Regions from separate parts of the Homo sapiens genome. Here region 1 is linked to region 2. The links come from fine-mapping of genetic effects on plasma protein levels. Region 2 holds a variant in brackets. A gene starts in the other region. All regions are shown on their forward strands. Region 1 holds the start of MCEMP1 (mast cell expressed membrane protein 1). Region 2 overlaps LINC02846 (long intergenic non-protein coding RNA 2846).

What was found. PIP is the posterior inclusion probability: the model's chance that the variant is causal. The UK Biobank Pharma Proteomics Project read protein levels with antibody pairs (Olink). The fine-mapping took linkage between variants from a reference panel, not from the people measured, so its PIPs are less certain.
Region 1: it holds the start of MCEMP1, and the variant in region 2 is fine-mapped to the plasma level of the MCEMP1 protein (UK Biobank, PIP above 0.99).

What each region holds. Positions count from the first base shown.
Region 1 is chr19:7,674,638-7,677,499 of GRCh38, forward strand. It overlaps MCEMP1 (mast cell expressed membrane protein 1), which reads left to right and starts at 2,453. Exons shown (of 7, transcript NM_174918.3): 1 at 2,453-2,538. The coding sequence starts at 2,484.
Region 2 is chr9:136,106,142-136,109,042 of GRCh38, forward strand. It overlaps LINC02846 (long intergenic non-protein coding RNA 2846), which reads right to left. Exons shown (of 2, transcript NR_189286.1): 2 at 1,708-2,678. Among named protein-coding and RNA genes, the nearest start is that of LINC02846, 1.8 kb to the right of the region's middle. RefSeq lists enhancers at 622-671, 1,945-2,557 and a silencer at 982-1,081. The variant C/T (reference allele first, on the strand shown) is at 1,169.

The DNA.
Region 1 (2,862 bases), not on the chromosome of region 2:
AATTGATCTTTCTTGGAGACACAGGATTTGGCAATATTTTAGGAAACAGAACTTTATCCTCACCAGATCTCGACGCTCATTTCTCAACATTCAAGTTGTCTGAAATTTAACCACATATTTTTAACCAAAACATCATCACTTTCTGCACATAAGACAGTCTTATACTTGTTTTTTCTTCTTTTCTTCTTCCTTCCTTCCTTCTTTCTTCTTTCTTCTTTTTTCTTTTTTTTTTTTTTTTTTTGACGGAGTTTTGCTCTTGTTGCCCAGGCTGGAGTGCAATGGCGCGATCTCGGCTCACTGCAACCTCCACCTCCCGGGTTCAAGTGATTCTCCTGTCTCAGCCTCCCGAGTGGCTGAGATTACAGGCGCCTGCCACCACGCCCAGTTAATTTTTGCATTTTTAGTAGAGACAGGGTTTTATCATATTGGTCAGGCTGGTGTCTCTAACTCCTGACCTCAGGTGATCCGCCCGCCTCAGACTCCCAAAGTGCTGTGATTACAGGCGTGAGCCACCACACCTGGCCAGAAAAAAATAAAAATAAAAATGTATGCCTGTAATCCCAGCACTTTGGGAGACCAAGGCTGGAGGATCAGTTGAACCCAGGAGATCAAGACCAGCCTGGACGGCATATTGAGACCCTCATCTCTACAAAAAATAAGAAAAATTAGACTGGGCCACGGTGGCTGATGCTTGTAATCCCAGCACTTTGGGAGGCCAAGGCGGGTAGATCACGTGAAGTCAGGAGTTCGAGACCAGCCTGACCAACATGGGGAAACCCCGTCTCTACTAAAAATACAAAATTAGCCGGGGGTGGTGGTGCATGCCTGTAATCCCAGCTACTTGGGAGGCTGAGGCAGGAGAATGACTTGAACCTGGGATGCGGAGGTTGCAGTGAGCTGAGATAGCGTCATTGCACTCCAGCCTGGGTGACAAGCACAAAACTCCATCTCAAAAAAGGAGAAAAATTAGCCAGGTGAAGTCGTGCCCACCTGTAATTTCAGCTACTCGGGAAGCCGAGGACGAAGGATTACTTGAGCCAGGGAGGTCAAAGCTGCAGTGAGCCATGATCACGCTGCTGCACCCCGGCCTGGGCAACAGAGTGAAACCCTGTCTCAAAAAAAAATTATTAAAAAACATTTAAAGAGACAGGGTCTTGCTATGTTGCTCACGCTGGTCTCAAACTCCTGGCCTCAAATGATCCTCCTACCTCAGCCTCCTGGGTAGCTGGGACTACAGAGCGAGCCACCATACCCAGCTACTTTGTGCCTTTTGTAACCCCAGTTTTCAAGATCAGATAAACACAAAGTGAACTAAGACACCTTCTAGACAGAGTGCGGGCATGTGAACGCATGCTTGTGTCTATTTTTCTGAGTGTCACAATGCAAATAGTATGCAAATGAGTTTGTGATGTGTGTCCGTGTGCAGACCTGTGTGTGTACATGTGTGAGAGAGAGTATCTGGGTAGATAAGCAGATGGATGGATGAGAATGAGAAACCTGGAGTTTCCAGGTGCAGAGGAAACTGTTCCTCCAGGGTTCTTTTTTGAGACAGAGTTTCCCTCTTGTCACCCATTCTGGAGTGCAATGGTGTGATCTCCGCTCACTGCAGCCTCCGCCTCCCAGGTTTAAGCGATTCTCCTGCCTCAGCCTCCTGAGTAGCTAGGATTACAGGCGCTCGCCACCACGCCCAGCTAATTTTTGTATTTTTAGTAGAGACGGGGTTTCACCATGTTAGCCAGGCTGGTTTCAAACTCCTGACCTCAGATGATCCACCCACCTCAGCCTCCCAGAGTGCTGGGATTACAGGCGTGAGCCACCGCACCCAGCCTCCTCCAGGGTTGTATAAAAGCAGGGGATTTGGGGAGGGAGGGAAGGATGTGGGTCTGTCCTCAGTCCCAGATGTGGGTGTGGCGTTCCAGTGGTTAGTTCCCGTTGCCTCACATCTGTGCTTTTCCTCCACGGGGACTTGTAGAAGTAGAAGAACTTCTTGGGGGTGGAGCTGAGGGGTGGAGCTGAGGCTGGAGGGAGGAAGGTGTGGGGGGACCCAGGGGTCCTGTCTCCAAGCCTGGTTGCTCTTACGCGAAAAGTTGGGACACTGAGGTGTCACAGCTTCTCTTTTGAAATGGAGAGGAGGTAGGAGGGTGAGGTCCATCCAGGTAGACACAGACACACACAGAGACCACAGCTTCCTGTAACATTTCCGAGTGTCGAATTCCATCTCCCGGTCTAGAGGTTTTTCTTCTTGGTCCTTCCTGAGACCTCTTGGCTCCCAAGAGCCTCTTGATCGGGGCAGGAATGAGGGTGCCCCAGGGTGCGAGAGTCGTGGATCCCTGAAAAGAGGAGGCTGCTCCCCCTCTTTCTTCCCCCCACCTCCAGATTTCCTCATCTGCCCACACCTTCCGGTGGGCGGGGACGTGTATGGACAAATTTGCGGGCTGGGGACCATGGAAGTGGAGGAAATCTACAAGCACCAGGAAGTCAAGATGCAAGCACCAGCCTTCAGGGACAAGAAACAGGGGGTCTCAGCCAAGAATCAAGGTTAGGGAACTCGAGGTGGAAGGGAGGGGTTAAGAAGGAGAGATTGGGGGGCCGGGGGCTTTTGCTCATGTCTGTAATCCTAGCACTTTGGGAGGCTGAGGCGGGAGGATTGCGTGAGCCCTGGAGGTGGAGACTGGCCTGGGCAACATAGGGAGACTCTGTCTGTAAAAAATAAAAATAAAAAAAGAAGGAGAGTTCAGATGGGAGAGGTAAGGGGTCAAAGGTGGGGGCCGGGGGCTCCTTCCCCTCCAAGATGTGTGGATGTGTGTGTGGATGTGTGTGTGGTGTGATCACTCAAACTCTCACACACCCGCTCCACTTAAC
Region 2 (2,901 bases):
TCAGATTCCAAACAGCAGGGCTGCTTTTCCGGGGTGTATTGGGGGGGCCGGGGGGTAGTTGGCTTTTTTGTTTGTTTGTTTTTGAGATGGAGTCTTGCTCTGTCCCCCGGGCTGGAATGCAGTGGTGAGATCTCGGCTCACTGCAACCTCCACCTCCCAGATTCAAGCGATTCTCCTGCCTCACCCTCCCGAGTAGCTGGGATTACAGGCGCCTGCCACCACGCCCAGCTAATTTTTGTATTTTTAGTAGATTCGGGGTTTCACCATGTTGGCCAGGCTGGTCTCGAACTCCGGACCTCAAGTGATCCGCCCACCTCGGCCTCCCAAAGTGCTGGGATTACAGGTGTGAGCCACCGTGCCCAGCCTGGGAGTGGGGTTAGTTCTAAGTTGGTGAGAGGCAAGCACAGCTCTCGAGGGACATCCTGCCCGGAAGACGTACTCGTGGGGGCCTCAGCTGGCCCTTGGCACAGTCATTCAGAAAGTGAATGTGAAGGCTTGCTCTGCACCCAGCCCCAGGAACCCGTGGGGCAGCAACCTGTTCTTTTGTTTGTTCGTGTTAGGCTCGGAGCTCCCAGAGAGGGTCTAGCATCCTTCTACAGACCGACCCCTGGAGACAGCCCCCACCAGGATACATCCTTGAGAATAAGCCCCAGGAAAGGGTTTGGGCCACAAATGGCCTTGTCTTCCTGGCCCAAGGTCATCAGATCTGCCTCAGGCAGGGCCTGCAGCCAGCCCCCGGCACCTTCCCTTGAGGAGAGGGTCTGCCCAGTTTTGGTGGAAGGAACAGGGCACCAGCCTCCAGTGCTGCTTCTGCAATCCCATGGCCCCGACCCAGGCCCCAACCCAGGCCCTGGTAAGACGGTGACCCAGGGAATCTGGAGCTCCCTGGCCCACTGCGGCAGCCGTGCCACAGGTGACATCGTGAGCCCCGCCCCCCCGCCCCCCGCCCTGAGTCCAACCCCAGCCCTGGTTCCTTCTCCCTGAACTTCCCACCTGGGGACAGAATGCGGGCCTAGGGCTTTCCCTGGGGGTGACCTGAGAACAGCTAGTCCAGCACCTCACCTCACTGCACGCTGTAGGCCCAGCCTCCCTGGGTTCCCGCCCCCTTATCTCACAGGAAGAGCTGGGCCTGGAGAGGGGCAGATGGCTGCACAGCCTCACGAGGGGC[C/T]GGGGAGCCGCACCTCTTCCTGCCAATCAGCCCAGCAACCGGCGACCCCAAGCGCGGCGACCGCAAAGGGAGTGCTTGCCCATCCGCGTTTGAAAGCAGACTTTTTCTCGGCAGGAACACAGGACTCACCTGCCAGTGGCTACCCAGGCAGGGGCTTCCCTGTTCCTCAAGGGGCCGGAGTCCCTCCGTTCTTTGGGGGACCATCTGAGGGAGCACGGGAAGGAGCCATGGATGTGGAGGGCGGCAGAGCCAGGACGTGAGACACGACAGCAGAAAACACTTGGGCACACAAATGCCACACCCCCACACGCACATACGTGCACACATACATGTGCCAGGCACGCACCCCAGCCAGGTGGAGGAGGGTGGGGGTCAAACCAGGCTGCACCGAGCACAGGTGGTGGCTGAGTTCCGGTTGGCCCAGCTCCAGGCTGTGGGGAGAAGAGAGATGGCGGCATTCTTTCGGACGCTTTTATCCACTATGGGAGCAGGAAGACAGCCAGGGTTATCACAGCACAATTTGAAAAACATACAAATAATTCATGTCAGCATAACGTCATGGTGTTGTCAATAATGAATCCACACTTAAAACCCAGATTGATAGCTTCAAAGGGCAGCCCCCACCCCTGGACAGGTAGGCAGGGCGCAGAGCCAGCCCCTCTTGGTTCTGAGAAGCAAACTCGGAAGCAGTTCAGGTCAGAGGAGTCCAGGGACCGCCCTTGCTGGGAGGAAATGGGTGCAGTGCGGCCCAGCGCAGTGAGCGGGGCCAAGGGTCTAGCAGCACTCGAGTTCTGCCCAAAGACGAGAGAGAGGGTGCCGGCCTACGTGCGCCCGCTGGGAAGAACTGGAAATCCATGTGCTCCCGTTCTGCGAATCCCTTCACCAGGGCGTCGGCCACCGGAGTGGGAAAAAACCTCTCCCGGCGTGAGAGCTGGGGGCAGGCCCAAGGTGCTAGGGGCTCCCGGGAGGACTGGCCATGGCCACCCAGCATCCCTGTGCCTGGCCTGGGCCTCGGTGGCCAGTCCTCCTCGGCTGCAGACCCCAGTGAGGACAGGGACCTCACCACCCACTGCCTGGCTTCTGAGGCAGCAGTGCCCCCATTAAACCTGAGATGAACTTCTCTGGGTCTTTCAGGAAGGAGCCCCGCCCCAGCATCTGGGCTCCCAGGACGAGGGCAGTCACTAAGTGGTGATGTCATGTCACTCATCGGCCTCTTCTGCCTGTGGCCATACAACAGGCCCAGGCCTGTCCCATCCCGAGGGAGGCAGATCCTGGCTGGAGCTGGCGGAGACTTACGGCCACACCCTGCCAAGGTGTGCCCACTGGGACCCGGGCCCAGCCTGTCACGGCGCCTCTCCCTGTGCCATCCGCCAGCCCAGGCTTGATTGAGCTCCATATGAATATTCATACAGCATTCTGCTGGGACCGTCGTTAATATTCTGAGGAAGCGGCAAGAATGCCCGTCCCCATGTCGTGAGCCATGGTCAACGTGCTGCTGACACGATGGTGGCTGTGGATTTTTCGGATGCAATTGTCAGGCCTCCAGGCTCAGGAGGGTGGAGGCAGCACCGCCATCTCCAGGCCCCACCAGCACCCATCCTCTGACCACGGACCTCCCAGGCACCCCACCTGCCCCCTGGCCTTTGCCTACCACCGTGTCCTTACCTGACCCAACCTCGACCAAATGCCCCTCTTCCTCACCGCTCCTGCCCCTGCTTCTCCTCCTCAGCCCT